Linked DNA regions of Homo sapiens: region 1 is linked to region 2. The links come from fine-mapping of genetic effects on gene expression. Tissue or cell type: monocytes. Region 2 holds a variant in brackets; the other region holds the start of a gene. All regions are shown on one strand. Distances are between the middles of the regions.

The links. PIP is the estimated chance that this variant, and not a neighbour inherited with it, causes the effect.
Region 1: SH3BP4 starts here. The variant in region 2 is fine-mapped to the expression of SH3BP4 in monocytes (Quach 2016, PIP 0.95). The same link has a PIP of 0.9 or more in monocytes after LPS and monocytes after Pam3CSK4.

What each region holds. Positions count from the first base shown.
Region 1 is chr2:234,944,238-234,959,842 of GRCh38, forward strand. SH3BP4 (SH3 domain binding protein 4) reads left to right here and starts at 7,780. Exons shown (of 6, transcript NM_014521.3): 1 at 7,780-7,933. It overlaps LOC105373938 (a long non-coding RNA gene), which reads left to right. Exons shown (of 7, transcript XR_007088132.1): 2 at 1,406-1,465; 3 at 4,627-4,886; 4 at 5,349-5,548; 5 at 5,630-5,698; 6 at 6,361-7,114; 7 at 7,202-7,562. RefSeq lists an enhancer at 8,233-8,882.
Region 2 is chr2:234,986,120-235,001,724 of GRCh38, forward strand. It overlaps SH3BP4 (SH3 domain binding protein 4), which reads left to right. Exons shown (of 6, transcript NM_014521.3): 2 at 9,184-9,257. Among named protein-coding and RNA genes, the nearest start is that of SH3BP4, 42 kb to the left of the region's middle. RefSeq lists enhancers at 5,126-5,897, 12,660-13,289, 13,405-14,081 and silencers at 10,346-10,640, 11,266-11,560. The variant A/G (reference allele first, on the strand shown) is at 8,810.

The DNA of each region.
Region 1 (15,605 bases), 42 kb before region 2:
TTTACATTTGTTGAACCATCCTCCTATCCTGTGATAAATCCCACTTAATCATGGTGAATGATCCTTTTAATGTGTTGCTGAATTCAGCTTGCTAGTATTTTTTTGAGGATTTTTGTATCTATGTTCAACAGGGATCCTGGCCTGTAGTTTTACTTACCTATTTATGTATTGATTTATTTTTTGTAGTGTCTTTTTCTGGTTTTGGTGTCAGAGTAATGCTGGCCTCATAAAAAGAGTTTGAAGTATTTCCTCCTCTTTAATTTTTGGAAGAGTTTGTGAAAGATTGGTATTAGTTATTCTTTAAATGTTTGGTAAAATTCAGCAGTGAAACCATGAGGTTTCTTAGGATCCTTTATATTTCTGTAGTATCACGTTGTATTATTTCCTCTTGTATTTCTGACTTTATTTATTTGTCCTCTCGTTTTTTCTTAGTTTAGCTAAAGGTCTGTCAGTTTTGTTTATCTTTTCTTTTTCTTTCTTTATTTTTTTTTTTATTTTTTGAGACAGAGTCGTGCTCTGTCACCCAAGCTGGAGAGCAGTGATGAGATCTTGGCTCACTGCAACCTCCACCTCCTAGGTTCAAGCAATTCTCATGCCTCAGCCTCCCGAGTATCTGGGACTACAGGTACACGCCACCACACCTGGCTAATTTTTGTATTTTCAGTAGAGACAGGGTTTTACTATGTTGGCCAGGCTGGTCTCGAACTCCTGGCCTCAAGTGATTCACCTCCCCTTGGCCTCCTTAAGTGCTAAGATTATAGGCATAAGCCACCATACCTGGCCATTTATCTTTTCAAAAAACCAACTCTTGGTTTTATTAATCTTTTGTATTTTTTTTTTAGTCTCTTTCATTTATTTCTCCTCTGATCTTTATTATTTTTTTCCTTCTACTAACAATGGGCTTAGTTTATTCTTCTTTCTGTATTTCCTTGAGGCATGATGTTAAGTTGTTTGAGATCTTTCTCCTTTTTTGATGTAAATGGAAAACACCAATTTAAATCCCTATTTAAATCCAATTGATATCCATGTTGACATGACTAGTAGTTACTGATTTTTTTTTATTTATTTATTTATTTATTTATTTATTTTTGACAGGGTCTTGCTCTGTTGCCCAGCCTGGAGTGTAGTGGTGCCGTCTCGGCTCACTGCAACCTCCGCCTCCAGGATTCAAGCAATTCTCCTGCCTCAGTCTCCCGAGTAGCTGGGATTACAGGCGCTCGCCACCACACCCATCTAATTTTTGCATTTTTTAGTAGAGACAGGGTTTCGCCATGTTGGCTAGGTCTGTCTCAAGCTCCTGACCTCATGTGATCCGCCCGCCTCGGCCTCCCAGAATGCTGGGATTACAGGCATGAGCCACCGCGCCCATCCCTGATTTTTTTTTTTTTTTTTTTTTTTTTTTAAGAAATAAAGCAACTTCTCCCAGGCCATGTGGAAAAGCCATGTGTGAACCAGAGGAACAAGTGTGAGTAAATCTCAGCCCTCTGGGCAGAATGTTCTGCTGTTCGTGCTATTTCTTAATCACAAGACTGGCTGTGGATTGCAAACCTGTCACCTCTTTTTTACATTCCCAAACTCACCAAAATGCCTTTGTTAAATTTTCATAGTTTGACATTGAAATATTAACGTGCAGACAACTGGCCTTGTACAGTTTTGATTCTATGCTTTGCAGGACTTTCTGGGATTTGAGGTAACCTGCATGTCTGGCCTGGTGTTCCTTGGCCTCGCAGAAATATCCCACTCTCCTTGCCAGACACAGAAAGCCCTTTGCTCCTTCCCTGGAACTTCCTCAAACCTCCAAACTTTGCACTTGCAGATTCTGCCTGGGATGTCTGTCCCCTAGTTCTGTTTCTCTTTTTTTTTTTCTGAGACGGAGTCTCGCTCTGTCGCCCAGGCTGGAGTACAGTGGTGCGATCTTGGTTCACTGCAACCTCTGCCTCCCCAGTTCAAGCAATTCTCCTGCCTCAGCCTCCCAAGTAGCTGGGATTACAGGCACACGCCACCACAGCCAGCTAATTTTTGTATTTTTAGTAGAGACAGGGCTTCACCATGTTGGCCAGGCTGGTCCCAAACTCCTGACCTCAAGTGATCTGCCCGCTCGGCCTCCCAAAGTGCTGGGATTACAGGCGTGAGCCACGGCGCCCGGCCCCCCAGCTCTGTTTCTAAGCCTACTAACAAATCGTATTCACCCTTCATCATCCATCCCTGAGGATACCCATGCCCACCTACATCCAGGATGGGTCCAGGTGGCCTTCCTCTGTGTACCCTGACACTTATCCAACTATCGTTCTATAGACTAACTATATAGAATGATAGCAACTGTGTACTCCTTAAGTAGAAGAATCTAGAACATACCTATCTTCCTATCCTCAGCTCCTAGCACACTGCCTGACACACAGTAAGCATTCCACACATATTTGTTGAATGGATAAGTGAGTAAATGAGCAAGGTAATGAATATTTGTTTAGAAGTATTTCTGGAAGTTTCCTTAAAGCCACAGAACTCTTTTCAGCAGATCATTTTGTCTCTGCATCCCTTCTGGATTCTGTATGCTCCTGGGATGCCTGGGTTATGTCCCACTGCATATGAATTTTTTTTTTCTTGAGACAGATTCTTGCTCTGTCGCCCAGGTTGGAGTGCAGTGGTTCGATCTCGGGTCACTGCAACCTCCGCCTCCTAGGTTCAAGCGATTCTTCTGCCTCAGCCTCCTGAGTAGCTATAACTACAGGCATGTGATACCACACCTGCTATTTTTTTTTTTTTTTTTTTAAGTAGAGATGAGGTTTCACTATGTTGGCCAGACTGGTCTCAAACTCCTGACCTCAGATGATCCACCCACATTGGCCTCCCAAAGTGCTGGGATTACAGGCGTGAGCCGCAGTGCCCAGGCCCAGTGCATATACATTTATTAAGGACAGTCAGCCATGTGGTGGGGCTCCCTGTCACAGCTTTTTAGAACTGGAAGGATAGAGGCTTCTCAGAATGGCAAACAGATCACCCAACATTTTCTGGCAAAACCGAAGTCTTGCTCTCTCTTATAGCTAGTGTCTCACTGAATTCTTGGCAAAGTAACGTTCTCCAAGCTGCTGGGGAAGTTACAGAGGATGGGCAGCATCTAGATGCCCCATGAGCCCCCATTTCCCAACACGGTCCCCTTGGAATCTCTCTCTTTCCCTCTTTCCATTCACTTCATTCTTTTCTCTCCAGCCTCACTGGTGTCATTTCAGTTCCCTGAGGGTGTGAAGCGCTTTCAAGCCTCAGGGTCTTTGCACATGCTGTTCCCTCTGCCCAGCACGCCCCTCTCCACTCCTTTCCCTTCGGGTCCAATGTCACCTCCCCTAGGGCCTTCTCCAGCCCTCCCACATAAAGCAGGTCTCACCTCATCCTAGTTCACAGCCCACTGTGCTTTCTTTTAGGATGCTTATCACCACCTGTAGGCTTTGTGGTTCCCCTTCTGCCTGGGTCCACTCTGGAATCTCAGCTGCCTCTGTCTCACCAGGGCTCTCACTCCCTGGGGCCACGCTCGGGGCTGGCATGCAGCAGATGTCCAATAAGTATTTCTTGAACAAATGAATGTCATTCTGTAGGCTTGTGAATCATGTAAGCAGCATTTTCTCCCTCAACTTAAATCCACTGTATTAGGCTGTTCTTGTGTTGCTATAAAGGAATACCTGAGACTGGGTAATTTATACAGAAAAGAGATATATTTGGCTCACAGTTCTGTGGGCTGTACAAGCATGGCTCTGGCATCTGCTCAGTTTCTGATGAGGCCTCAGGGAGCTTTTACTTATGGTGGAAAGCGAAGTGGGAGCAAGAGAAAGAGGGGGAGGTGCCACATACTTTCAAAGGCCAGATCTCCCCAGTACTCAGTCACTATTGGGGGGACAGCACCAAGCCATGAGGGGTCTGTCACCATGACCCAGACACCTCCCACCAGGTCCCACCTCCAACATTGGGAGTCATATTTCAACATGAGATTTTGAAGGAACAAATATCCAAATTTTATCACCAACAGAGGGTATGTATCTAGGCTTGCATTTTGATAACAGGTCCTCTCTCTGCATTCTGAGTCAGAGGCAACTAATTTAAAAATCCATTCACCCACATTGACGATTAAATTTCTACTCTTACAGATTCCATTTGAAAAATATCCTATGCCTTGTGCTCTTCTTTGCCCTTTAGCTGTGTTTTGTACATTTGTATTCTATTTTCCCTGTGACATGGGCATTTTGATCATTAATGATTTCACTTCACCAGAAGAACATTATTCTTTTTATTTCATTGCTGAGAATGTTTTTGTCCATAGAGAGATATTTTCATTATGGGCCACATGCAATTTCTGAGTAGTTATTTCCTAATATGAAGTGTATTTTATAGGTGGTCAGAATGTTATAACATATTAGAGAGCTTATGTAGAGTTTGGGATAGTGTATATTACTTGGGAGTTATTCTTGCCCGGGCTGCTTTTTCTGGGAGTGTTGTATCTATTCTGAGAAGTCCTTGGAATGAATTGGTGGTGCTTGGTGTGATTGAACTGTTGCTGGTGTTAGTAACAGATGCAGCACATTGACTGTCAAACCTACCCCAATCTTTCCCTGCTCATCTGTGTGCATCTTACTTTCCTAGACAACAGAGCCGCTGAGTACACCCCAACACAGAGGAGCCAGCGCTCACCGAGAGATTTGCCAAGTGGAGTCCTTTTGAGACATCCAAATTTCACTGTCTTCAACTTATTAATGTGAAACAAAGAATAACGTATATGTGTGTGTAAACACGAATAGTAACAGCTTATATTTGTAAACAATGTGCCGTGCGCCCAGCACTACATTAAGCAGTCTCCATGCAGCACCTCCATTAATCCTGGGGAGCACTGTACCCACTTCAAGGTGAGAACACTGGTACTGAGTGGCCCTGCTTTATGTCACCCAGCAGGTGAGTGGTGGGTCTGGCATTCAAAGCTGGGCAGCCTGATTTTAGAACCTACCACACTGTCTTTATACATAGATGCATGTCCACGTATATATACCCACACACATCACGCACATATGTATCATCTACACATGCACGCACCCAACGCGTGCAAACGCTTGGGGAAAACCTCTGGTAGAGTATAATTCACTGTGAACTATGGAATCTGGGAAAGGGTAGGAACTTAGGATCGATGCTTACTTTTTACTCTACACATTTCTCTAATCATTTTAATCCTTTGAAACAAATGTGTTATCTCTGTACTAAAAAAAAATAAAAACCCAAGTTATTGATTTTGCTGTATGTGTTCCCACTGGAAAGGCTTATTGAATAATTGAATGTTATGAATGAATAGCTCATTTTTTTTTCTTTTGATCCAGAGGCCTTTAGAAGAGCAAGTAACAAAAACTGGTGGAAAAAAAGCACACATTCAACAGGAAGCAACATCTAGAGACCTTTCTGCCTTCCAGGATACAAAAAGAAAACAGTTCATAAACAACTTACATCTAAACCAGTAATGTTGTCTCCCTGGCTCATAGGAGCTGAAGAAGAATTCCAGTTACTGTAGTAAGAATATAAGGTAATGTGTTCTTGTTTTTTTTTTCTTTTTTTTTTTAACCACTTTGTTTAAACATTCTGACCTCTGTTAATTCCTCTCTAGGATGTGGACTGGTTTGAGGATGCTTGAGGCATGACTATAGCAAGTACTGCGCATACATATGTGGACATCGTAAGACACACTCTCTGCTTCCCCAGGCGAAATCTGTAATGCTTTGTTTATTCATGTTCTATTCTGCGTTTCCATGGCACTTTGTTCTTTGTGGTTTTTAGGGTATCTTTCTCCCTCTCTGCTCAGTGAACTGAGCTGCCTGGACAGGCCTTGAGTTTTCTTATTCGATTGTTTTTTGTGTGTGTATGTTTTGCCTTAGCTCCCTCACTAGTATAGTCAAGGAGCTTTTCATGCTTTGAGCCATTTGTGGCATTTCAGGAATTACCTTCATAGCTTTTGTCCATTTTCTACTGGCTTGTCTTTTTCAATGTTTTTATAGGCATTTTTTAAAAAACACAGTGTGGATGTCATTTGGGATAGCAGTACTAATAGTAGCTAAAACTTACTGAAAGCTACTGTGTGCCAGGCAGTCTGCTGAGCACTTTACATGCTGCCTTTCATTTTTACACTCATTTAGGAAACTGAGTCACAGAGAGGCGAGATAACTTGCCAGAGATTCAAGCACACTCCAGACACATCCCTACACCAATCAGACCTCCTAGCCACCCAGAAACTCTCCTCTGCTCGGAGGCTTCTCTGCTTCCTCCACCTGCCCCTTCGCCTCACTGCCTCCTTTCAAAATCTGCGGCATGTATTTTAGGGATACTCGTATCCATTTTCAGGAATTCCATGATCTACACACAGATGACACCAAAATCGGAACAGCAATGTCCACCCTTCTCCCGAGCCCTAGGTCGGTGCCTCTGTCCACCTGTGTCTCCTGAAACTTCAACACAGACTTCAAATGGAGTGGCAGAAAACCAGATTCCTTAGGGAAAGGAAGGTCTCCCAGACGGCAGGAGCGGCAGGCCTTAGGGGCAGCCGCAGGGGCTCGGGAGTCTGAACATACCCGGTTTGAATTCAGACTCTGGCACGCCCCATGCGATCATAACATAGTGCTGCACGTCTCAAGCCACCTATAAAAACGGGGACAATAACAATATCTGCCTCGGGGTTAATGGTGAGGACTGACTGTGTGTGTCTCGCTCAGGACCAGGAGCAACAAATGTTGGCTTCTTCCCCGGCAAAGACCCGCGCTTTCTCCTGGGCTCCGGGTTCCCGGGGTGGGGGTGGGCGCAGTCCCGAGGGCCCCAGGCAGTGGCGCAGTGGTTAGACCCCAGCCTCTGGAGTCGGCCTCGGTTCAGATTCTGGTTCTACCCTTCTCCTCTGTGGCGAACCAACCCTCCGAGCTCTAGTTTACTCGTGTGAAATGGACTAGCCAAAATTGGGATTTTTTTTTTTTTTTAGGATTAGATGTGTCGGTCCATAGACGTTGCTGGCCACATAGTTAAGTGGTGCGTTCACTCACTGGGCATTGATGGAGCGCCTACTACGTGCCAGGCCTGTTTTACGCGCCGGGGGCCCAGAGGCGCCCAGGTCAGACAAAGTGTAAACGATTCCGACCAGAGCCCTTCAATCTGCATTCCGCTTCGCAGGAAACTCTCCTCCTTTTATGATTTTCAGCCGGACTGCCTTCCCTGTTGTTAGTTTGTAACTTTCGCTCCGGCCCCCGCAGCCTCGCGCCTGCCTTCCCTCCACTGTCCTCAGCCAAGGTGTAGTAAAGCGTCTCCGAACGCGGCGCGACCCTCGCCCACGCCCGCTCGCGGGGGGACCGCACCGCCCCAGGGGTCCTCGCTAGGGGTTCCCGGAGAAGGGGTGGGAGATGGGGGTGCGGGGGGGCACAGGAGCGCGGGCCAGCACCCAGACCTGCTCGGTACCGGGGACCCAGACCCGAGGATGCCGGGCGGCCAAGGCCCCGCTACCCTGGCCGGCTCCGGGCGGAGGAAGAAGAGGAGGCGCCCAGACTGGATACCCGCCTGGACCCGGAGCCGCGGCACCACCCCCAGCCCGCCCCACGCTCGCCAGCCTCAGACGGCCGCGCCCCGCCCCGCCCCTCTCCCGAAGCCCCGCCCCGGCGCGGGACCACCCCCTCCGCGGCCTCAGCTCCGGTCCTGGCCCCGCCCCCCGCGCCCCCGCCCCCGCCCCCGCCCCCGCCCCCGCCCAGGCGCGGGACCACCCTCCGCCCGCCGAGGCGGGGGCCCAGCGCGCCCGGCACTCTCGGCGGTCCGGGCCCCTCGCCACTACCGCCGCCGCCGCCGCCGTGAGTCCCGCGGAGCCGCGCGCGCCCCCGGCTGGGCCGAGCCGCTGGCCGACGAGCGGAGCCTCAGGAGCCGGCGGGGACGCCATGCGAGCCAGGTAGGCAGGCGGCGGCGGGGAGCGCCTCGGGCGGCAGGGCCCTGGGGGCCGGCGGGGGCGCGGGGTCGTGCTCGGGGGCTTTGCACTCCCTTGCGGGCGCAGATCGTGCCGCGGGCGCCGATCGTGCCACCGCCGCCTGAGTTCGGGGCTGCGCGGGTGCCTGGGCGTGGGGCGGCTTCGGGGAAGCCTCGCGCGCCCCTCGCCGCTCCCCCGGGCGCTCGGGTCTCCCTGGTGCTGGTGGGCAGGGACCCGGCCCGGGGTTCCGGGCGCCGAGCCGCAGCCCTCCGCGTGCGCTCGGGCCGCCCCCCAACCCCGGCTCTGGCCACTTCCCGGCGGGCGGCCCTGCGGGGTGGCCTCCCTGGGCAACCGGACGCGTCCTCGGGCGCAAATCGGGGGGCGCGCTCGGCTCACGGGGGCCGTGGGGGCCACGGGAGGGCGTGGAGGGGTCGGGGCGCCCCCCTCGAGCGGCGCTGGGGAGGAGGGAAGGACGCGCGGTCTCCGGTTAAACTTGTTGGTGACAATGCATATTTCAACTTCTTCGGAGATCCCTCCTGTGAGGATGAAATTGAAAACTCCGGTTTCTGGCTTGGCGATCGGGTGACCGAGCAGCCGCGAGGTGACAGCGCCGGCGGCCCGCGGGCGGGGACCGGCTGGGATAGAGGCGCGTTGTTCTCTGAGCGATGTTTACCGAGAAGCCCGCTCCGCGGCACGGGCGGGTGTCAGTTGGGACCCCAACCCTGGGTCCCGCGGCTCCTAGCCCGGGGCCTGCGGTGTAGACGGGGGTTGGGGACAGGCCCAGCTGGCCCTGACCGGGTGTCGGGCGCCCAGAGATGCCGCGCGGGAGGAGCCGCGGGAGAGCCGCCGGACTCAGCGAGCAGAGGGTCGTGGAGCCTGATGGATCGATGAGATCTGAAAAAGAACACTGTGCGAGATTGTATTCCTGCTTATTCTTTCCAAGTTAGTAGGCAGATTGGAACTATAGAATTTATCCGTGATAATAATAAAGTTCGCATAACTTTTGTTCTGATTACAGAAACAATGTATGCTCAGGACAGAAAGCTAGAGATAAAGAGAAATATAAACAGCAAACAGGAAACCATCCCCAATCCCACATTTTTTACCAGCCTTGTCACAGCCTGGCAGATTTGAACATTAAGTTAGAACTGGAGCCATTCTTGCCTAAACCAGAGAATCCCTGAATGCAGCCGCCCCTTCTCACCCTTGTGACCGTCTCTGAGCTCCAAAGTTTGGGTTTTTTCCTTGCTCCCTACCCGGGCAGAATCTCTGCTGGCCACGAGTCCCCTTCCCAGTGGGCTGGGGGCTTTCCTTGAGATCCGTGGCCCAGATGAAATGATGGGAGAGGCCTGGATCCTCACCGCCCTCTGTGGTTTTGGTTCCTTGCCTTGTAAAAATGAAGGTAATGATTCTCAATCTGCTTCTCAAGCCACCATAAAAATTAATGGGTGGTTTGCAGAGCGTTTTGACATCCGTGGATGGACAGCGGCTGTACTTTAAGGCGCTGGGGAACATTCTACTGTTCCTCATTGCAGTGGTCATGCAGTGTAATAGGCTGCCTCTCACCTGGCCGTCCTGCCCAGGAAACAGACTCCAGGAATGTCCAGTGGAGCCCTGAGGACAATATTCCTGGTTCCTTGCTCAGTGCCCTCGGGACTCGGCCAAATCCCTCAGAGTGGGAAGCTTGGGAAGAGGCAGCGCTCTCCAATCCCCCTCCTCCACCTCTGCTTTCTGCTTGTAGGCGGATTTCTTAAAGTAAGGGGGCAGTGATATTTAGGCGGGACCCCAGATTGCCCACTGCCTGATGTTTGTGGGTCTGTGGAATGCCCGGGCCGTGCTTATCCAAAAGAACAGTTAGTTCTGGGAGGACGCATAAACTGAACAAACCTGGCTTCCTAGAGATTTGTATGGCTCACTTGTTTACTAAATGAACAATGACCGGCTGCGGAGAAGCCCAGGACACTTCTGTGAGCTTTATTATTATTTTTTTCCTGTTGTCCCAAGACTACATTTTAGTGATCTTATAAAACAATAAATAAGAACCCATGCCATTTGTTAATTCTGGGTACCAAAGGCCCAGGTGGGGAGAGGTACTTCACAGCATGCCTTTTGTCCCCAAGCACCCATGCCACCCCCACAACAACAAAGTAATCAGGGTAGAAGATCCTCTTTCTGTAACCGTCTGTCGTTTGATAGTTTCATTTTTTAAATTGTCCTTTCCACCAGCACGTGGATCTGATCAGGGTCTGTCTAGTTGCAGATCACAGCTCAAGAGGGGGTTTTGGAAAGACCCAGAAAGTGGGCTGAAAAAAATGCTGATAAAGTATCCTTCACCGGGTGCCTTGTCTGTTCATGTATTGTGCTCTTACTTTTCTCTGTGGAGGGAGGACCTTCCTGGCTTTTCTCCCTTGCTCTTGTTTGCTAATCCGGCAGCCTGGAATTATTTCCCTCTGGGCTGCTTGAATAGACTTTCTTCTTATTCTAATGCTGGATTCTAGTCTGATCATAAGATATGCGAATGGTGAATGTGGTTTACGCCCTTGAATCCTGGGAGGTGTTCCTGGTTTTAAATCCTGGGATCCTGGCCAGTTAAGAGCCCCTGGCTCCCCTGAAATTGCGTGGGAGGTGTGTGTGCTTTCTTTTCCTGGGGAGCTTCTTACAGAGCCCTTGACCCAAACAAGGTTGAGAGCTCCAGAGTGCGGCCCTGGCAGACCTCGTCCCTGGACCCTGGCTCCAGGCAGACCTCCCAGTTCCAGCCTCGTTTCAGGTACCAGCCTTGTTTTGACCGAGTAGGAGCTGCTGTTTACAACTGGCCAGCCATGTGGATTTCCCTTAGCTTTATTATTTTCAAATTGCACACCTAAATTGGGCTGTGTTGTGATTTTTCTTCTGCAAATTGGACTCAGGCCCCTGGGACATTTCCCAAGGCCCTGGAGGTGGGCATCAGGTCTTCTCTGTTGCGAGGTAGCCGCCTGACAACCAGGAATCCGAAAAGGTCACCGATCACTAAATAGAGTTCTCAGAGCACTCTCAGTGCGCGGGTCAGCTTTGCTCCTGGCCAGGAGCGAGCCTCAGGCCAAGCAACGTTTACACTCAGCTTCTGGGGAGCTGGGCTAGGTCTCTGGGCTCCCCAGCTATTTGCACGAAAGAAGCCTCACATTCTGCCACCACCCTGTGGAGCAGTGACAGAAAAACAATTCATCTAGCCCCCAAATACCCAGGGAACAATCCAGCTACTTGATTCAGTATCCTCCAGGAAGCCGAAACCAGCTCCTCGGTGGGCCCTGAGGGCGTCCACGTGTTACATAACCCAGCACCTGATCCCACCGTGACCTCGCTAAAGGGAAAAAGTCTCAATAATCAGTCTTCAGAGGGCGAGGGAGTGCAGAATATGCTTTAGAAAGAGGCTGTGTGCCGTGTTTTAAGAAGGGTAAAATCCCATGTAGAACATCACAGCCTCCCATCTTCCAGGTGAACAGTGCCTCCTGAAGTCATCAGGAAGCATATGGATTTGAGGAAGTAGAATTGCTGTATGGAATTCCTCTAATTTAAGGTTTGGGGTATTTTGAGGGATGGAAATAGGTACCACTCGTTGAGGGCTTACCATATGCTAGGCTGCATGTGTGCCCTTTTGAATCCTCACGAAAACTACCAGGGGTTTCATTTTACAGGGAAGCTACGAGAATTTAAGAAACTCCTCCAACCTTAGACTTTAATGAGTGCTTGAGTTGGGATTTGAACCTGGATCTGTCCAAGTCCAGAGCTCGTCATCACATCTCCCGGGGTGCTGAAATTAAAGAAACAAACGGCTCTCAGTCACACATTGGAGCCTGAAGATACAGGCATGCAAATAGCGGAGTGCCAGCCTCCCTCACACAATTAGAAAATAGCTTGTACTCTGAAGGTGATGAAATCTTTAAAACATGTGACGCTTTCTCAGCCTAAATGGAAGGCAGCCATTTTGCACCTTTGTTCGTGAAACCCTCACCCCGTCACCAGGGCGAAGCAAGGTTTATTTGGAAGATTGTGACTTTGAAGTTGGGATAACCCAGGATTTGGTACGATGTCTTTCCTTGTCCCGTGAAAAGAGGGTGTTTGGGCACATGGGGTCACTAGAATGAGATTAAGATTATAGGAAGGCGGTTAAGTAAATGTACAATAAGGGTTCCACCTTCCTCTTTACAATCAAATAAATGACATACTAATGAGATTATTCTTATCTGCGCAATAAAAGCTTATCTCAGGGGAGCTCTCTTTGCTGAAGCCTGTTAGCCCAACTCTTCTGTAGAGATTGAGAAGAATACTTCCTTTGAAAGGATTTTATGGTTCCAAGTTTTTATTAAATCTGCATAACTGAGGACAACCCTGCCTCTTTTTTTTTTTTTTTTGAGTTGAGATTTCTCTGTTGCCCAGGCTGGAGTGCAGTGGCTCAATCATAGCTCACTGCAGCCTTCAACTCCTGGGCTCAAGCAATCCTTCTTCCTCAGCCTCCTGAGTAGCTGGAACTACAGGTGCACACCAGCACGCCCGGGTAGTTTTTTTTTTTAAATTCTTGTAGAAATGGGGTTTCGCTATGTTGTCCAGGCTGGTCTTGAACTCCTGGTTTCAAGTGATCCTCCAGCCTTGGTCTCCCAAAGCACTGGGCTTACAGGTGTGAGGTATGTTGCCCTGCCCTTGCCCCATTTTTATGAGCAGGCAGGAAGCTTTTCTAGCCCCTCCAATGTAGGAGGTCCCTGAGCTCATAGTGTGCCGGTAAACCTGCTCTCTGAGGAGAAAGCAGAGCTTCGATTGCAGTATCTGCCAATTTCTGTGACGTAAATATTCCCACCATGGCTAATTTCTTTTTCTTTTTTTTGAGTCTCACTCTGTCACCCAGGCTGGCTGGAGTGCAGTGGTGCAATCTCGGCTCACTGCAACCTCCACCTCCCAGATTCAAGCTGTTCTCCTACCTCAGCCTCCTGAGTAGCTGGGACAACAGGCATGTGCCACCACGCCCAGAAGTTTTTGTATTTTTAGTAGAGACCGGCTTCCCCATGTTGGCTAGGCTGGTCTTGAACTCCTGACCTCAGGTGAACGGCCCAGCTTGGCCTCCCAAAGTGCTGGGATTACAGATGCAAGCCACCATGCCCAGCCTGATTTCAAACTGCCAGTTTGGGCTGGGAACATTACTAAATAGTTAACAATCTGTGTGAGCCAAGAAGAGCTGGGTCCTGCTCACCATTCATTGCACTGAGCCCACCCACACGACACCCCTGCTTCCCCTTCCGTCACCCCCATCACTTTAATGGAAGAAATTGTGGCCTCACTTCTGCTTGGTCCATGTCTGCCTAGGAGCAGTACTGAAAAAGGATTTGGGTACTACTGAGTAACCGAATTTGGCCAGCAAGAGTAGAAGGCTTCAAAACTCAGGCTGCATTTTAAAATCACCCGGGAGCTTAAAAAAACAACAATCCATGTTCCAGGCCCATCCCCAGTTGAATCAGAATGTCTGGGTGTGGGTCCAGACCTCTGTAGATTTGGAAAGCTTCCCGGGTGACTGTAATGTATATCCACGTTGAACACCAGGGATGTGGTGATGAATTTGTTCAAGAAGAAAGCTGAGGGGGTGCAGTTTGGGGCAGGGCGTGGCAGACCCTGTGTATTTGAGCCCAAGGAGGTGAGATCTCCCTTGCAGAGCAGGGAATGTTTTTCCTTAAGGCCTCGTAGAGGGTGAGGAAGTGCTGGGCTAGGAGAGGCAGGCGGAGCCCATCTTCCCCCCAACAGGTCTGTCCTCCTCCAGGGGCACGTGTCCTACACTGATGAGGTCCACATACTTGTTTGGCTTTGGTTGCTTCTGCTGGTCTAGAAAGGAAAAGAGTCTTCCTTCCAGGAAGTCAGGGGGTCAGGATGAAGCCAGGCAGACCCCCTGGGTGGGTGTGATGAGCTGTTCTCAGATATTAAAGCAGAGGGGCTTACTGGGACCACCCAGATGAAGGAAAGAGAAACCCTACCGCCCAAGGACCATAGCTGAACACTTTGTAAGAGTCCTTGAGCTTGGGTGCGCACATAAGCTGATTATTTTTTCTCCATCATAATTACCAGTAAAATTATTTTAAAATGTGAGAGCTTTCCTTGGAGGCAGTAAGCATGTGGGAGGGAAAAGTCATTCAACTTCAGAGCCAGCCATGGTGAGCGGGGCTGGGACTGGGGAGAGGCACACGAGGCCCCTGGGGTGCAGGATTCAAGGAGGTGCTCGCCCTGGGGGGGTGTCTGGGGAAGGGTCTGTCCTGCTGGCCAGAGGAGGGCTGTTTGAGAGAGGGCGGTCCTGGGCTCACTTCCTTAGAGTTGGGCAGTGAGTGTGGAAGAGCTCATACATGGGAACCTAGAGTGAAGAGCAGGGGCCAGGATCACACTGCTGGATCACCCCCAGAAGGGGCAGGAAGGCTAAGGGGGAGCCAGTGGAGGAGCAGCTGGGATGGGAGAACAAGTGCCCTGCGGGGCCCTGAAGTCAAGGAGGAGAAAGATGGGGGTAGGGGGAGAGGGGGTTGAGAGCTCAAAGCAGACGGGACAGTTCTGAGTCTATCATGTGCGGAGGATTTATGAACGGGAGGACTGGAACCCTGTCACTGTGGTAGTGGAGAAACTCCTATAATAGAAGAAATAGCACAGAGTGGAGGCCACGCAGAAGAATGTTGGTGATAAAAGAAATTGGACCGTATTTGATGGTGTGGAGACAGGGCAGGAGGGAGCCAGGGTTGGGTCAGAGGGACTGGGATTCTAGCAGGGGCGGAAAATTCTCCTTGGGGTACCCGTGCGGTGGGGAGTGGCCGCAGATGCTGAGAGGGAAGCATTGGGTGTGAATAGCTGATCACCAGGAGCAGCTGGTTAAAAGACCTTCCCCAAATGCTTTCTCAGATCATAACATCTGCAACTTTTTCCCACTAGCCTTTGTGGAGGGCTGGCTGGGGGGCCCATTTGTCCTTAAGACTCAATTCAGCAGACTCACTTGCTCTTCCAGGCCCAGTTCACACTGCCTTCTCAGACACACCCGAGGAACCTGCACCTGGGTCTGCCTGTGTCCTAGCTTTCTTACCTGTCTGTTGTCCCCCTAGGCAGGGCGCTGCTTGGGGGCAGTTGCATTTTATTATCTCTGCATCCTCCATACACAGGAGCCCCTCAGACACCATGCCCAGTGCATGAAAGAGCTGGCAGAGAGAGAGAGAGAGCCTGGACAAGGTGAAAACTTAGGGTGGTGACTTCATACAGCCATGTAGTGACAACTCCAATATTCTCTTCTTGACATCTTGGCAGTAAAACTTACAATATATGATAGAAGTAATTCCTCCCTATGAATAATAAACGGCTTACTTATAAATACTGTCCAGTGGCCATCCCCGTAGTTCTGTGCAATTTAATTTTTAATTCAGGTAGGTTTACCTTGCCTTTGTTTACCCATTTTCCACTGTTGCCCTTTGTAAGAGGATTTGACTTTTTTTTTTTTTTTTTTGAGACGGAATCTCACTCTTGCCCACGCTGGAGTGCAATGGCACGATCTCGGCTGATTGCAACCTCCGCCTCCTGGGTTCAAGTGATTCTCCTGCCTCAGCCCCCCAAGTAGCTGGGATTACAGGCGCATGCCACCATGCCTGGCTAATTTTTGTGTTTTCAGTAGAGGTGG
Region 2 (15,605 bases):
ATGTGCAGGTGAACCAGCCCTCCACTCACACCTATGAGCACAGAGACCATGGTGCAGGCGTTATCTCTCTTATTCATGAGGAGGCCCAGTCATTCCCTCCCTACCCTGAGTTGAGGAGGAAGGATAAGACTTAACTGTGGTCCCAGCATTTAGTGGCAGAGCCAGGATTTGAGTCCATATTTAAATAAGGTCCAAGTCTTCAACATACTGATGTTTCCCAGATATTTTCAGCCTCCTAAAGGTTTATTAGGGGGACAAAACTCTTTCAAGACTCCGTCACAAACATTCGTAGTCTGATTCAGGCAGGAATGTTAACTTCTACTTTCAAAGACTTGTGATTTTATAACCTGCCATGGGAAAAGGAAATGCAGGATTGGAGCCTGGTCTGGAATCTTACACCCTCACTTGTCCACGTCCTGTCTTACTGCAGCCTGTGTGGTCTTGGGATTGTTCTGTTTGTGTTTGTCGTTACTCTGCATATCATGGCTGGTGGCTTTGGGTTAGGATCCCAGCTTTTCACTTCCTGATCTCGGGTGAGTCTTTGAAACCTGGTCAGCCTCAGTTCTCTTATCTGCTAAATGATGGCATGATGATACCTGTCTGGCCTACCTCATAGGGTTGTGAAAAGCGACCGAGAGGCCAGATGGGAAAGTATGTTATCAACTAGGATACATTATGCTAATGATTTTATTTTTTTTTTTTTTGATGAAGTTTCACTCTTGTTGTCCAGGCTGGAGTGCAATGGCTCAATCTTGGCTTGCTGCAACCTCAGCCCCCCAAGTAGCTGGGATTACAGGCATGTGCCTCCATGCCCGGCTAATTTTTTGTATTTAGTAGAGATGAGGTTTCACCATGTTGGTCAGGCTGGTCTCTAACTCCTGACCTCAAGGGATCCACCCGTCTTGGCCTCCCAAATTGCTTGGATTACAGGCATGAGCCACCCCGCCCGGCCTGCTAATGGTTTTCAGAGGCAGCATCAACATCAGCTGGGAGCATGTTAGAAATGCACATTCTCAGGCCCACCCCAGACCTACAGAATCAGAAACTGAGCGTTGTTGGGCCCAGCAACCTGTGTTGTAATCAGCCCTCCAGGTAATTCCAGTGAATGCTGGCGTTTGAGAACTACTGCCTTAGTCACAGAATTTCACGGGTGTTGTATGCAATTTCTACTATGTATTTGGCACTCAGTGTCTGGTATATTTCAAAGAAAAAAAAAAAAGACAGGGTCCCTGCCCTCAACATGGTCTACAGGCTGGAAGAAAAATTAAAGCAAGAGAAACCCACATGAACTTGATGTACGTTAGAGCCCCATGTTACAGTTGAGGAAAACGAGGCCCAGGAAAGATGAGTCATTTAGCAAAGGTCGTGGAGCTGGTGTGAGAAACGTGAACCCACATGTTTGACTTATGACAATCTCCAGACCCTTCATTCCCCAGGCCGCCTCCCCCCAACATGGGCGGCTCATGGTGTCCCCCCACTTATTCATGCGAGAGAGTTCCGAGGTCAGAATCAAAGCCTAGGACGCCTTCCTTGAGACACTCTCCTTGGCTTGCTTTTAGGTGGTGATTTTCGAAACCTTGGATTAAAACCTTCACCCCCCACAGCCACAGTAGAGTCCAGAATGATGAACTAGATCTTGTGAGGCTCCAGAAGTGATTGGGCAGTGAGTTGAAAAAGTCAAAGTCTAGAAGAATCATTAAAAATACAAGGAAAAGCCGAGTGTGCATGGGTCTTCCAGTCTTTCTGTTGGGTGCAGGTCTTTTCTGAGTGTGGGTTTGGCCATGGTGTCTCCTGTGTAACCCACATGCATGATGACATCATTGATTTCCAGTCCAAGATGGCGCCATGACACAGGGACACTGGTGAAGCCATCCATGCCCAGAGTTCTCCTAGAGTTGACTGCATTTTCCTCAGGTGTTTAATGTCATTTAGCTTGCCAGCCACATTTTTTTTTCTTTGAGTCAGAGTCTCACTCTGTCGCCCAGGCTGGAGTGCGGTGGTGTAATCCCGCCTCACTGCATCCTTCGCCTCCCGGGTTCAAGCAATTCTCCTGCCTCAGCCTCCCAAGTAGCTGGGACTATGGGCGCCCACCACCACGCCTGGCTAATTTTTTGTATTTTTAGTAGAGACAGGGTTTCACCGTGTTAGCCAGGATAGTCTTGATCTCCTGACCTCATGATCTGCCCACCTTGGCCTCCCAAAGTGCTGGGATTACAGGCGTGAGCCACCACACCCGGCCCGCCAGCCACGTTTTTAAGTGATTCACCTTTAGCGAGTCTTTCTGAAACATTTCACTTGAATTGCCAAGGGAGCTGCCCTTGTCTCACCCCTGGCCATCAGTTTATGTAGTAATTAAATATGTAAAATTTCCACAACAAGGACCCCAGCTCCAGCCAGGGGAGCAGAGCCCAAAGGGGAATGAGAAAGTAGTCTTCCGGCCACACAGGTGTAGTGGGCCCTGTGTCTCATTGTCCTCCCGTCTTCACACTCAAAGGCAGGGGGCCTCCGCCTCCTCCACCGCCCTGCCAGGGAGGGAGGGCGTTCAGAGAAGGCAGCCACTCGGTGCTGCGCGGGTGCCAGGAGGAGCTCACGGTGTGTAGGGGGGACGCATGAACAGGTGAACAAAGCCGTTGCGGGTGCTGGGTGGGTGGTTGTCTCAACGCCCCTCCTCCATTTTTATGCTTAGTATTCATTCTAGGTTTAACACAGGAGAGAGGAAGGTTATATCCCATTCCGTATCACATTCTCTGTAAAATTGGAAATTTTATGTAATTACAGGAAGGGTAAGTGAAGCAGTTCTGTGTTCTGCATAAGAAAATGTAACATCCATCAGGTGAGATTTCAGGCCCTCTCACTTGGCTGCTTCATCCATCTGTTGCCCAAATACGTTGTCAGTGTGTAAGTTTTAATAGTGTTGATTTTGATAGCATGAAGTAGAAAGGCTTTTGTCCATCTATCAGAGTGTCGCTTTCTCAGTTCTGTAAATTGGTTGTCTCGGAGTGGAATGATCTGCCCTCATAGAGAATGAAAAACCTGGGGTTGGGTCCATGGCCAGGCCATGAAGTCTCTGTGTAGTCTTGGACGTGCCGTGCATGAGGACTGATTGTGCGAACCCGAAGCTGTAGGAGGATGGCGTCACTGTGCTGCCAGAGCGGGGCCAGAGATGCCTCCCCTCTTTTTGAGGTTGGAGCCAGCTCTAGAAAGAAACCTTGAAATGGATGTTGGGCCCGTTCCCGTCTCCCTTTCTGACCACACCTACGTCTGCTTTTCTTTCCTTCCCTCTTGCCATCTCCTACCCTAGCTGGTCTCTTGGCAAACACTCCTGGCATGCAGCCATGTACCCGGGTGAATGCCCACTTCCGTTTGGCCTGAGCCTACATCCCGCCTGGCCCTTTGCCCACTGCGTAAGTAGGAAGGGTAGAGAACAGGGCTTGGCACACTTTTCTCTGTAAAAAGCCAGAGAGTAACTATTTTCCACCTTGTGGGCCATAAGGTCTGTGTCACAGCTCCACTGTTTTGGTTGCACAGAAGAGCTATTGATAAACTGGTGGGGCTGGGCTCTGTGCAACTTAGGTAAGGACACTGCGACTTAAATTTCTTATCATTTTCACGTCGTGAAATATTACTCTTTTTATTTTCCCCCCAACTGTTTAAAAATAGAAAGACGTTCTTTGTTCATGGGCCATACAAAGATAGGTGGCCAGGTTGGATTTGGCCCGCGGGCTGTAGTTTGCCTCTGGGTTGGACAAGAATTTTCAGGGTGAACACCCCTCATCCAAAAATTTGAAATCCAAAATGCTGCAAACTCTGAAACTTTTTCAGCACCAACGTGATGCCACAAGTGGAAAATTTCTCACCTAATCTCACATGACAGGTTGCAGTCAAAACTCCAGAACAAAATTATGTAAAATGTTGTATAAAATCACCTTTGGACTATGTGTATAAGGTACGGATGAAACATAAATGAATTTAGTGTTTAGACTGGGGTCCCATCTGCAAGATATCTCATTGTGTATGTGCAGATGTTCCAAAATCTGAAATCCAAAGCACTTCTCGTCCCAGGGATTTTGGATAAATGGTACTCAGCGTGTATTTAGTTCTACTTTGTAGTTTGGTTCTACTGACTGGCTCTGATGTATGGTGGTGGGTGAGGCTGGAGCGACCCCAGTCATCCAGCTGTCGGGGATGCAGGCTGTAGAGGCTCTTCTGGCCGATGGCTCCATTGATGTCCACTGTGGAGGCTTAAAAAATCTAAGAAATAGGCTTACACGTTTTCCAGTTTACTCAACACCAGCCTAACATTGCTTCACCTCAACCCTTCAAGAATGTGTCCCATAACTAAGTGGGTTGGACTTTTGGGCCCATACCTGAAGTTGTTGGAACAAAATTAGTTTTGTGTGTTCCTGCATATTCCCTGGGAACTCATGCGGGTCTGGCCCTGAAAGACTCAGCTCTGCAGCGTGGACCAGCTCTTGGTGTGGTCAGCACAGGCCAGCCTGTAGGTTGAGTTGGGTGAAGAGTTCACGGAGCATTTTCAGATCTGTCACTCCCTCAGCAACCTCTGAGATGGGCAGAGCCGTGAGAATTACTTTGACGGGGCTGTTGTCAATGAACCACAAACTGCTGGGTGGTTTGCACAGTGGAAAAGGATTGTCTTACAGGTCAGGAGGCTGGAAGTCCAAGATGAGTGTCAGCAGGGCTGGTTCCTTCTGAGGCTGAGGGAGAATCAGTTCCAGCCCTTTCTCCCTTAGCATCTGGGGGTTTGCAGGTAGCTGTTGGCTTGTAGAAGCCTCACCCCCCATCTTAGTCATCCTGTCACCTGTCCCTCTCTGTGTGCATGTCTGTTGAAACTCCCCCCTTTTATAAAGTCACTGGGTCATATTGGACTGGGGCCCACCCTGGTAATCTCACTTTAGCTTGATTGCACCTTGAACACTCTGTCTCCAAATAAGGTCACTTTCTGAGGTACTGGTGATGCATACAAATTTGGGGGGATGCAATTCCATCTATACCATTGGGAAATGGGGTGAATAGCTGTCTTGGTGACTGTCCTGGAATGAGGATTTAGGACACAGTGGTCATCTCTGTGTGTGAATATAGCTTCCTGTTTGGATGTGGTAGGGTGAGGACCATGAGCCTCATATCATTTATCCACTCACCCTCCCAGACCCTCTGAGGTGGGATCAACTCTCTGCAGATTTGTCATCAGCTGAGACTGTCAACCATTGTTAAAACAGCTACTCAGATGGACAGAGTGACATAACTGCCCTTCTCTCTGCACCGTGGGAGAAGACACTTGTGTTTTGAGCTGCTGAAGACAACAGAATCTTGTCTTCTTGGCATTGTGGTTTTTGGAGATTTGCCCCAAATCATGGTTAATGACAACACTGATGTTTCTTGAAACAACTGGAGAATAAGGCATCCTCTAGACTTTCTGCTAATTCCATCCACCCACGCTAAACCGTGTGGTTTTCTTGGGGCCCCTGAAGACTGACGGGTCCACACTGGTGTCTGGTGGTGCCCACAGGAGAACAGTGCTTGACTGAAAGATCGTACCCCCCTCTTCTCAGCAAGGCGGTCCTTGTCCAGAGGCCTTGGGCCTCTGGAGAGGTTGATCAGGAGTTGGGGAAGTGGAAAGGGGCCAGCGGTCTTGTCCACTGAATCCATCCACTGGGACCTCCCGGACATGACAAGCCAGATTCTCTCCTCCCTCCACTCCAGCACTGAGGGGCTAGTGGTGCCACATGTGCACCTGTCCCTGCCCAGGGTCCAGTTCTGGCGTCTCTGAGCCCCCTGTCAGGGCAGCTGGGTCCCCCCATACTTAGGCATGAGGTATGAGTTTACCCAATCATCCCCCTGTCCAGGGAGCCTGCCGGGCTCAGCTTCAGGACCACAAGGCTGTTAAGTAAAGACGCTGCCTAAAGAACCTGCCAGAAGGAAAGCTCCAGAGGGCTTGCAGGGCCCTTATCCAAAAATGTGAAAATAATCAGTGCTGAAAGCCACAGTGACGGAGGGTGTTGTCAGCGCAGCCTCTCTTTAAATAGAGAAAGGAGCACAGCAGCTTTTTGGAGTTGGGGCGAGGTGGCATCTGGAGTTTCCAGCGAAGATTTATTTTGTGCCTTGGGGGGCAGGAGCTGGGCAGCCTGGGGAGGGCTGGGCAGCAGCGAGGATGGCGAGGCTGAGGCCCTGGACCACATGCAGGTCGTTTTCTTCGGGGTGGCTGGAGGGCGGCTCTCCAGGCAGCTCCATGGCCTCAGTAGCCCCCATGACCAAGTGGAGTGAAGTGAGCTGGGGGAGGAGTGTCACAAGGAGGAAGGCATTGTGGGCCCCTGGAGATGGATGCGTTCCTGCCATGTAGCTCTGGGTCTGGAGCCCCTGGAGATGGATGCATTCCTGCTGTGTGGCTCTAGGTCTGGAGCCCCTGGAGATGGACACGTTCCTGCTGCGTGTCTCTGGGTCTGGGCAGCACCTGGAGATGGACGCATTCCTGCCGTGTGGCTCTGGGTCTGGAGCCCCTGGAGATGGACGCATTCCTGCTGCGTGGCTCTGGGTCTGGAGACCCTGGAGATGGACGCATTCCTGCTGCGTGGCTCTGGGTCTGGGCAGCACCTGGAGATGGATGCATTCCTGCCATGTGGCTCTGGGTCTGGGCAGCACCTGGAGATGGACACATTCCTGCCGTGTGGCTCTGCATCAGGAGCCCCTAGAGATGGACACGTTCCTGCCGTGTGGCTCTGGGTCTGGGCAGCACCAGGAGATGGACGCGTTCCTGCCACGTGGCTCTGGGTCTGGAGCCCCTGGAGATGGACACATTCCTGCCATGTGGCTCTGGGTCTGGGCAGCACCTGGAGATGGATGTGTTCCTGCCATGTGGGCTCTGGGTCTGGGCAGCACCTGGCAGGCTTTGGAGTAGGCCTTGCCCACAGCCTGGGAGGCTGGGGAGTTCCTGTGAAGGGAGCTGGGTCCTTCTGGGGAGCGCCCGGTGGGGCTTGTTGTCCCTGCCTTGGGCTTGTCTCAGGAAGTGCCCCCGGCAGAGTGAGGAGGCTGAGATGAGCCCCGGGGGTCGGTTTCTCGAAGCCCCCGTCAGAGCTGATGTTCGGGCCACACGTTCTCTTGGGGTGATCCGTTCTGTGTCACTGGACTCGCCCCCCGCCTCATTTCCTCACTGGCCCAGTAGTAACTGCAGCCACTGGAGGCGGATACCCACTGAGGCTGTTCCCATCTGTCCTTTATGACGGCTTGCGATGGACCCGCCTGATGAAGGGGCCCAGCAGTGCCGGTGCCTGCCTAGAATTCAGGATGGAGATTCTGAGAACCCTGACCACGGCATAGGGGCTTGGGGTACAAAGGAAAGAAGAGGCACTAGGTTCTCAGAGATGCTGGTGCAGTGGCTTTTAGAATCAGAAAGAAAAAATGGGAAATGCACGCTCACGGTAGAGGAAATGGGAGAAGTTGCGGAAGTCTGAAAAAGGCAGGGACATATACCATGAAGCCAGCCTCATTCGTAGTTTCACTTCCCCCAGGTTTTTTTCAGTGCCCTTTTATGTCTTTTAAGATGATGAGATTTTCAACTGTTCTGTCTTGACATGACTCTTTGGAGAACGAGTACTTTGAGAGACATTCTGAAGAGCTCTGAGCAACATGGTAGACCCATTTCAAAGGAGAGGGATGGACGGATGGCGGCGTCCTGCCTTCTCTGCCGAGAATGGGGCCGCCTTGTGATTCCTGTCCAGAAAATCAGCTTGGGTGCAGGTGGCTGTGTTGGAGCTGTGGTGGCACCTGCAGTCCCGCCTGTCTCTTCCCACCCTTTGTTTTTGTCTTCTCTGGTTTCAGATCTTTTGTGTTTGTGCATATATTTTGTCACATTGTTGCGGCCTTTTTCGTAGCGTTCATTGATTCTTTTCATTTTGCCTGTGTGATTTTGCACATCGCTTGTACCCTTAGAAGGTCCGTGTCTACGTAGAGATCAACTATACAACCAGATTTTCTATTACCTATTGGGCGGTTTCCTTTCCTCCCTCCCTCTTCCCCTCCACACCCTTCTATTGATCTGGAATTCATTTTGTCTTTGGGTGTGAGTTGAAGCCCTGAGAGGGGGGATCTGTGCTCTGAACACCAGCCAGTTGTCCTAGCATCACAGGGAATGATTCTTTCCTTCTTGGGTGATTGTGACGCTCCTTTTAATTGCATGTTAAATATTTACATGGATGGAGGTCTGTTCTGGGCTGTCTGGTTCCTGCAGAGGATGAGTGGCCATGATTGAGGGAAGGTGTCCAGAAGGAAGTTCCCACTCCTTCTTTCACAGTCTGATGAGGTCCTGGATTCCTCTGAAGGCCCCGGGGCCCACTCTGTTATTCCTGTGGAGGAAGTCAGCCTGAGGGGGAGGGCGTCGTGGTGGCACCTGCAGTTCCGTCTGTCGCATTGATGTTGGCTGGTTCTGCTCTCAAAGGCGCCGGCTCTGTAGTGATGTCAGCGCCGTGTGACTTGAGGAGGAGACCCCACTGCTGCGGTGTGTCTGGGGTTCATCTTCAGGGCGCAGCTGATAAGATGCTTCTGTTGCGCTCACAATGCCAGTCATTGCAGCAGAAGTAATGGCAGGTGATGGGAGACTCATTGTTGGGGTGAGAAAAGGCACAATAAGCTATTGTCACAGGCAGGGCTCCCTGTGAAGCGGAACGTGATGCAGAGGCCACTGGGCAGGACGTTTAGGTTTGCTGGGGAGCACAGCAGCAGGGGAAGAGGACAGTGAGGCTGGGATGCAGCCTCCATGCAGCCTGTCGCTTTCTCCACAGGAGCTCTGGCCTGGGCC[A/G]GACTGCCGAGTCACCCTGATTCAGGAGTAGGGTGAGGGGCAGGCTTTGTTACCCCGCGCTAGTCACTGGCCTGGTCATTGGGTGCAGGCTGGCCCAGGAAGGGGGCTGATGTGGCCTCAAAAGGGCTCTTTCCAGTGAGACAGTTCTGGGTGGCCCCCGGTGAAGGTCCTTCCGCTGGCCACTCTCCAGAGTTGGCTTCAGAAGGGGACCTGGGGGCCGCGTGGCAGCGTCCACCACCATCCTCACCTGCTGTGGAAATGCACTGCAGAGCCCGTCTGTCCTCCAGGATGTGAAGGGGCCCTGGCGGGAAGCAGGCCTGAGTTCTGCGCTGGACAGGACTGAAGCTCACTCGTGTTTCCTTCTTGTCTTGCAGCGTCTCCCTTCTCTCCTGGACAGAAGGCCGTGTCCTGGGACTTCTCTGATGGCGAGAGGCTGCGGCTGTACCAGGTAGGCAGTGCAGGCATGGTGTGAGTGGGTTGCCATACCTGGACCCGCTTTACCATGTCATGACCAAGGTGCCGGACTCATGGGGACACAGGCCCCAAACGTGTGCAGAGCAGCTGCAGGAGGGAGAATGCTTCTGGAAGCTTCTGGTGACACTTGACCTTTCTCAGGCACTGCAGGCCTGTCCCTCATGGCGCTCTCCTCCTGTCCTCGAAGCCCACAGTGTTGTCCCCAGTGTGGGAAGGTCATTTGTCATCCTGGCATCCAGAAGCCCGGCCCCGGCGCATTCCCAGAACAGCCCCGTGTTTCTCTTTTCAGCGAATCCACTTTCTGTTGCCACCCGTGGAACGTTCTCACTCTTCCAAGAAGCCAGGCTAGCAGCTCCCCCACCCCAGCAGCCGCGGGACAGAGCCCAGGTTGGGTGGTGTGTACACAAAGGAGGGATTGTTCTCACGTCGCCCTGCGACGAGATGGGGATGGACCCGCGGTTAGAGGTCACCCTCCCTGGGGCGTCAGGGGAGCATTTGTCCTTGAAACACGCTGGCAAAAAATGTTCCAAGGAAGCCTCAGCTGGTGTTTGTGAGGAAGAGCTGGATTAAATGGTGTTCTGGTAAAATGTTCCTGGAGGTTTTCTTGGCTGTTCTTGGCTTTTATACTCCTGGTTGGCAATAGAAGGAACACCCTCCTTTGTAAAGTCGGTTGGATAGGATCACCTACCTCATAGGGCGGGCACAGCCTCCAGTTTTTTAGAAAAGCAACATACAAGTCTTTCCCCACCAAGTAGAAAGGATTGGATCTAAGTAAACGCTACGTTTGGATGCTCAAGGCCAAAGGGGGAGTTGAGAAGCCGCAGCTCACAGTGGGATTCCTTTCTGGGCCACGTTGGAATTTTAAAAGCCCTTCTAAATAAAGCAGGCAGCTACTTGCACTGTTTCAGGTTTTTCTTTAAATCCTGTAAACTGAGGGTAGCTGATTGGATTTTATTTCAACTTCTCCCCCCACCCTTTCTGTCCTGTCTCTTTGTTTTCCAGTATCTGCCTGTGCCTTAGGATGGAGAGAAGGTTTGAGATGTTCAGGAGGAGGCTCAGGGCTTTTCATAGTGACGTGAGGAATTCAGGAGTTCTCTGGTCCCAGGGTCAGTCCTCCGCCCACTGGGGCCTCAGCGACTTGAAACACTTCAGCCCAGGCAGAGGCCACCAGCAGGCCTTTCCTTATAAGTGCAGCCCCTGGCCCTGGAGGCTGTGGTCTCTTTGGGCTGCGGTGAACCCTCCTGAAAGGCATCCACATTCCTGGCATTCTTTCTGCCTGGCATTGGTCAGAAAGCGGGGGTTTCTAAAATCAAAGGCGAGCACTGCAGCTTGGTTCTTGTCTGTAGATAAACTGGAGAGACACCAGGGGGTTGTGCGGCATGGTTCTCTTTGGGCCCCCACATGGACTGGCCTCGCTGGACTTTGCATTTGGGGCATCGCCAGAGCAGGCCCCATCCTGAGCAAAGCAGGAGGAGGTTAATGGGGGTCCCTCTCGGGCTCCAGCAGTTCCTTGGGCGGCACGCATGTGGTTTGCTTTTTCTGACCCTGTGCCAGAGTTACTGGGGCAGCAAGACATCTGGGAAGAGGAACGGGAGGGTGGGACGGGTGCCGCCATCCCACAGCGGTGCCCGCTTGTCTCCGTGGCGGGCACACAGGCTTCCGGGAGCCCGGTGAGGGAGGTGCACCCAGACTTGCCCTGGATACAGCGGGCAGAGCGTTGCATGTGCCTCTGGGTGGGGTGTAGGGGTGCTTGGGGGCGTGGGTCCCCACAGCAGTTAGAGACCATCCACAGGCCACCACACTTTAAGCTGATTTTCGTTTTGCCTTGTTTTCCCAGAGGCATACATGTAGTGTTTTCTTGGTGCCTCTGAATAGTCACAGTCTGATTTGCCTGGGGGTCAGTGAGAGACACGGCTACCCAGGGTTTCCATTTCCAGGCCCCGAGTTTTGTCCGTGGCAAATTTCGTGATTTGCACATAGTTCCCACCTCATGGGTTCAAGTTGTTAACCTGATCCTGCTCCCACTGTCATCACCATCAGAGGTAGTTTATCCTGGTGCCTGGTGTCCTTCAGGATGAAGGAGGCAGCAGAAATGCTCCCTGACTCAGTTCCTGAGACCAGAATGACTGAGGAAACAGGAGGCCTGCAGCAGAGCACGGCCGATTGCTCCTCCGGGGAGTGTCAGCTAGGGGACGGAGCCGGTGCGGAGATCGAGGCCCCACAAGGCCTGCCCCTGTGGTTGTTCCCACTGTCCCACTGATGGCTGGGAAGGGTGAGCTCCAGCCCCCGGTGGCTTGAACACCCTCTGTAGTTGTGTCTGCTCAAGGCCTGGGAACACCCTGCCTGTTTCACAGATGAGAAACTCATCTCAGAGTACTCAGAAACCCAGAATACTTCATTCAAGTTCAAGTTCAGAGGGTGATTAAGAAGAATCAGAAGACTGGGTGCGGTGGCTCATGCCTGTAATCCCAGCACTTTGGGAGGCCGAGGTGGGCGGATCACGAGATCAGGAGATCAAGACCATCCTGTCTAACACGGTGAAACCCTGTCTCTACTAAAAATACAAAAAAATTAGCCGGGCGTGGTGGTGGGCGCCTATAGTCCCAGCTACTTGGGAGGCTGAGGCAGGAGAATCACCTGAACCCAGGAGGCGGAGATTGCAGTGAGCTGAGATTGCACCACTGCACTCCAGCCTGGGCGACAGAGCGAGACTCCATCTCCAAAAAAAAATAAAAAATAAAAAAGTCTCGGAGCCCAGCCTGCAGACCGGCTGCATTTGTGTGTCCCCTAAACCACTCCTCTGTTCCTTTAGCTTAGCTGGGTGCCTGGGGGGGCACGTGAACCACGTGGGCTGGTACCACACCCCCTCTAGACTGGCCAATGGGAATAAATCATGAGCCACAAACAGGAGACGTAAAAATGAACAGGTAAACATAATTTTTTTTCTTGGGATTGTAAATTCACACGACAGTTGAAGGTGCAGTGAAGAAATGGGTGGTAGCGGAGTCACCCACTCTTCGCAGGGCGACTGGCCACGCAGGCTCTGCCTGCACACCTCCTGCCTGGACCATGTGGAAAGTCTTCAGGGGTCACGTCAGACTGAGGTTCTCCAAAGTTCCTATCCCTTTGTGTGTTTGGTGAGCTTTTTGTTTGTTGGTTTTGGTTTCGAGGTGAAAGTCACATAACCTCCAGCTGACCGCTGCAGTGGGCATTGAGTACATTCTTGGTCCTGTGTCACCACCGCCTCTCTCTCGTTTCAAAACTTCGTCATCACCCTGGAAGAGCACCCTGTACTCACTACATGACCACACCCGTTGCCCCTGCCCCCGCCTCTGGCTACCACTAATTGGTTTACTTTTGAGGTTTGCATTGGGCTATGTCCCCATGGCCTTCGATCTGTGACAGAGATCCTGGCTTTCATACATCCTTGGGACAGAGAAACTAAGGCCAGCGTCCTTAATAGCATGACCAGGTCTGCTTGGACTGTCCTTTGAGGTGTCCTGCAGGCACTGATTCTGCACCTGCCAAGGCCTGACCTCCCCGTAATCAGCAGATAATCCAATAGAGGAGAAGGGCACTTGAGGCCATGCAGCGGCTGAACGGGAAGCTGTGCTCAGCGTCTCTCCAAGCCTCTGCATTCCAGTGACAACGTCCGCAGGGCCTCAGTGAATAAACCGCTGCAAATGCACGTTGGTGAGGCCATCAGCTGCCGAAGGGAAGCTGGGGAATCTGGACGGAGGAGAAAGAAACGTGAGCTGCACTCCCGGCGACACATTGGACTAAGAACGGCGCCTGCCTTCTTGAGAGGCTTGTTTTGTGGTGTCATAACTAGCCTGCCTTACACCTTTCTTAAAGCAAGCATGTTGTGAGTTCACAGGAGGGATTTTTAACATACTTGAGGCTTTGGGGACAAAAGACATCAGTCAAAGAAAGATTCCGCTATTATTTATTTCAAGAGCCTTTGAATCTCTTGCTGAAATCTGCTCCCATTTTGAAGAAGCTTCCCATCAAATCAGAAAAGCCCTGATTTTCCTGTCTCTGTGTTTGGAATTGTCCCCCACCCTGTTGTTAGTTCATTCCTTAAAGTTGTCTGGGCAGACTGCAATTTCGGAAGGGCACCTGGATGCGTTTCATTCTTGGGTCAGAAAAATACCTATGCAAAGAGCTTCTGACCAAGCATAGACAGATTTCAATTATTGGCACAATAGCATGTTACATAAATCAATTTCCTTGGGCCTCAGTTTTCTCCTTGGTAAAGATGGAACCTGGGTCTCTGAAGGTTCTCAAAGACTAAAAAGGAATCTAAGACACCCTCAGACTTGCTCAAGAAGAAAACAGGGCAGGATTATTGGAATGATCCAGAAAGAGAGCACAGTGAATCTTCTCAAACTTTGAGAAATGAATTGGTCATCAAAAATTAGACTTTCCTCTCACCTGTGCAGCTGGCTCTGTCACGCGGCCTCTGCTGCTCACCACCAGCACATACCTGGCCCAGGAGTGGCTGCCAGTCAATGCGCAGCAGCCCTTTGCAGGACCTGCCCTTGGGCTGCTTTTGAGTTTCTGAGCATCCAAGTCTCAGAAGCAGCTGGTTGGGCCAGCTCAAGCTCTGGGTCCGCTGTGGATTGATTCACCTGTACCTGGTCTCCACCACTGATCCATCTGGAGAGGGGTGAGGCCACAGGGGTTTCCAGGCTGGGGGTGTGCCTGGGCCAGGCAGCGACAGCCACTGGGAACCCCAGGCAATAGGGGAAGTGGCACTCACTTATCCTCGGCTGGGCTTCTCTGCAGGCTCCCTCCCTCCTTCCCTTCTTCCTTCCTTTCGGAACTCCCTACAACCCTATCACGTTAAGCAAGTCCTGTAGCCTCTCTGGGCCTCACTTCTCCTACCTGCTTATGGAGGGCCCCCGAGCCTGGGCTGTGTGGCTTCACTGTTAACATGTTATTGATGTGACTGGGGGGTTGCCCCTGTGCCTGACGTTTCATTCATGCCGTTCTCCCATGCAGGTTGCTCTCCTGATCTGGGCCCCGCCCTTTGGTTCCAGGGGATATGAAGGTCAGAGGAGGGATTAGCATGATCCACTGGCCAGAGTCAATAACACGGGGCCCCTCCTTCCAAGAGGGGCTTAGCCAGAAGGGGAAGCCTGGATCTTGGGCTCGGGCTCTGATGCTTTGTCTCTGAGCCGCTGACATGGAGGACGTCAAGCCGCGATGTTCATGTCCCCATTGCGTAGAGGTGGGTCCTGTAGTCCCACATGTGGTGTGCTCTGAATCTCCTTTCCACTCTGTTGGAGGGTCAGAGGGACTTGAAAGATCACAGAGCCCAGCCTCGCATTTGGCAGAAGAGAAAGCAGAGACATAAAGGCCAGGGACTTGTGCCGGGTCCTACCCGCTATCTGGTGCCCCACACACTGGGGCCTGTCCCCACTGCCAGCAGCCTCTGTGTGGGTTCTGCCTTTTTCTGCACTGGTGGTGTCTCCCCATCGCCCCAGCTGCTTGTGGGCAGGCGTCACCTTGTTCTGACCTCTTTCCTTCCCCCAGGCAGCTCTGGACTTTGCTCTCAGTAAACACAACTTGATTCTTTTCCTTCTTACCTTATCATTGCCCATAAATCCCGTTTACACGGTGCCCACTTTTGTGTCTGAGCTGGGACGTACAACCTCGTCTCTGCCTCCAGTTTTTGAGAAATTAATTATAAACAGTGTTGACAGAGGCTCTGGCTTGACTTGGGGCATCTGCTGCTCTTCCCGGCCTTGGTCTTCTGAAGGTAGCTGTTATCAGTAACAGAACAGATGTGTTTATCCTGGGCTCCCGGGCCCTTGGCGTGGCCCTTTGAGGGGGTCTGTGAAACCCCTGAAACTGCATGCTAAACTTTACGGGTGGAGGTAGTTTTCTAAAGAGAGGGTCCAGAGACTTTGTCAGATTCCTTAGAGGATTTGCACCCTCAAAAAACGTTAACAACCTCTGAGCTGGAGGAAGGCCTAAGACAAGCCTATCGCACTTGGAGATAAGATAAGCCGAGGCGGGACCTAATGGGGCCTCAATGTCTTGGCCAGAGTGCACAGCTGAAACGGAGATGACACTTGACAGAAACCAGTGTAAAACTCTCCTTCCCTTTATTTAGCTTTTATTTCTTGTGCTTTTCATTAAGTACAGATACTCTTTGCTTGCTTACAGAACAGGGAAGACCTGGCTTCTGAAAATTATCTTTAGGTTTTTCATTGAATTTGGTCTTATTCTGAACAATGCCTGAACGTCGAAGGTGCTCCCCTAGATAGGTTAATAGAAACCCACAGTCCAGGGCAAGAGGCCGCATCCGGGAAGC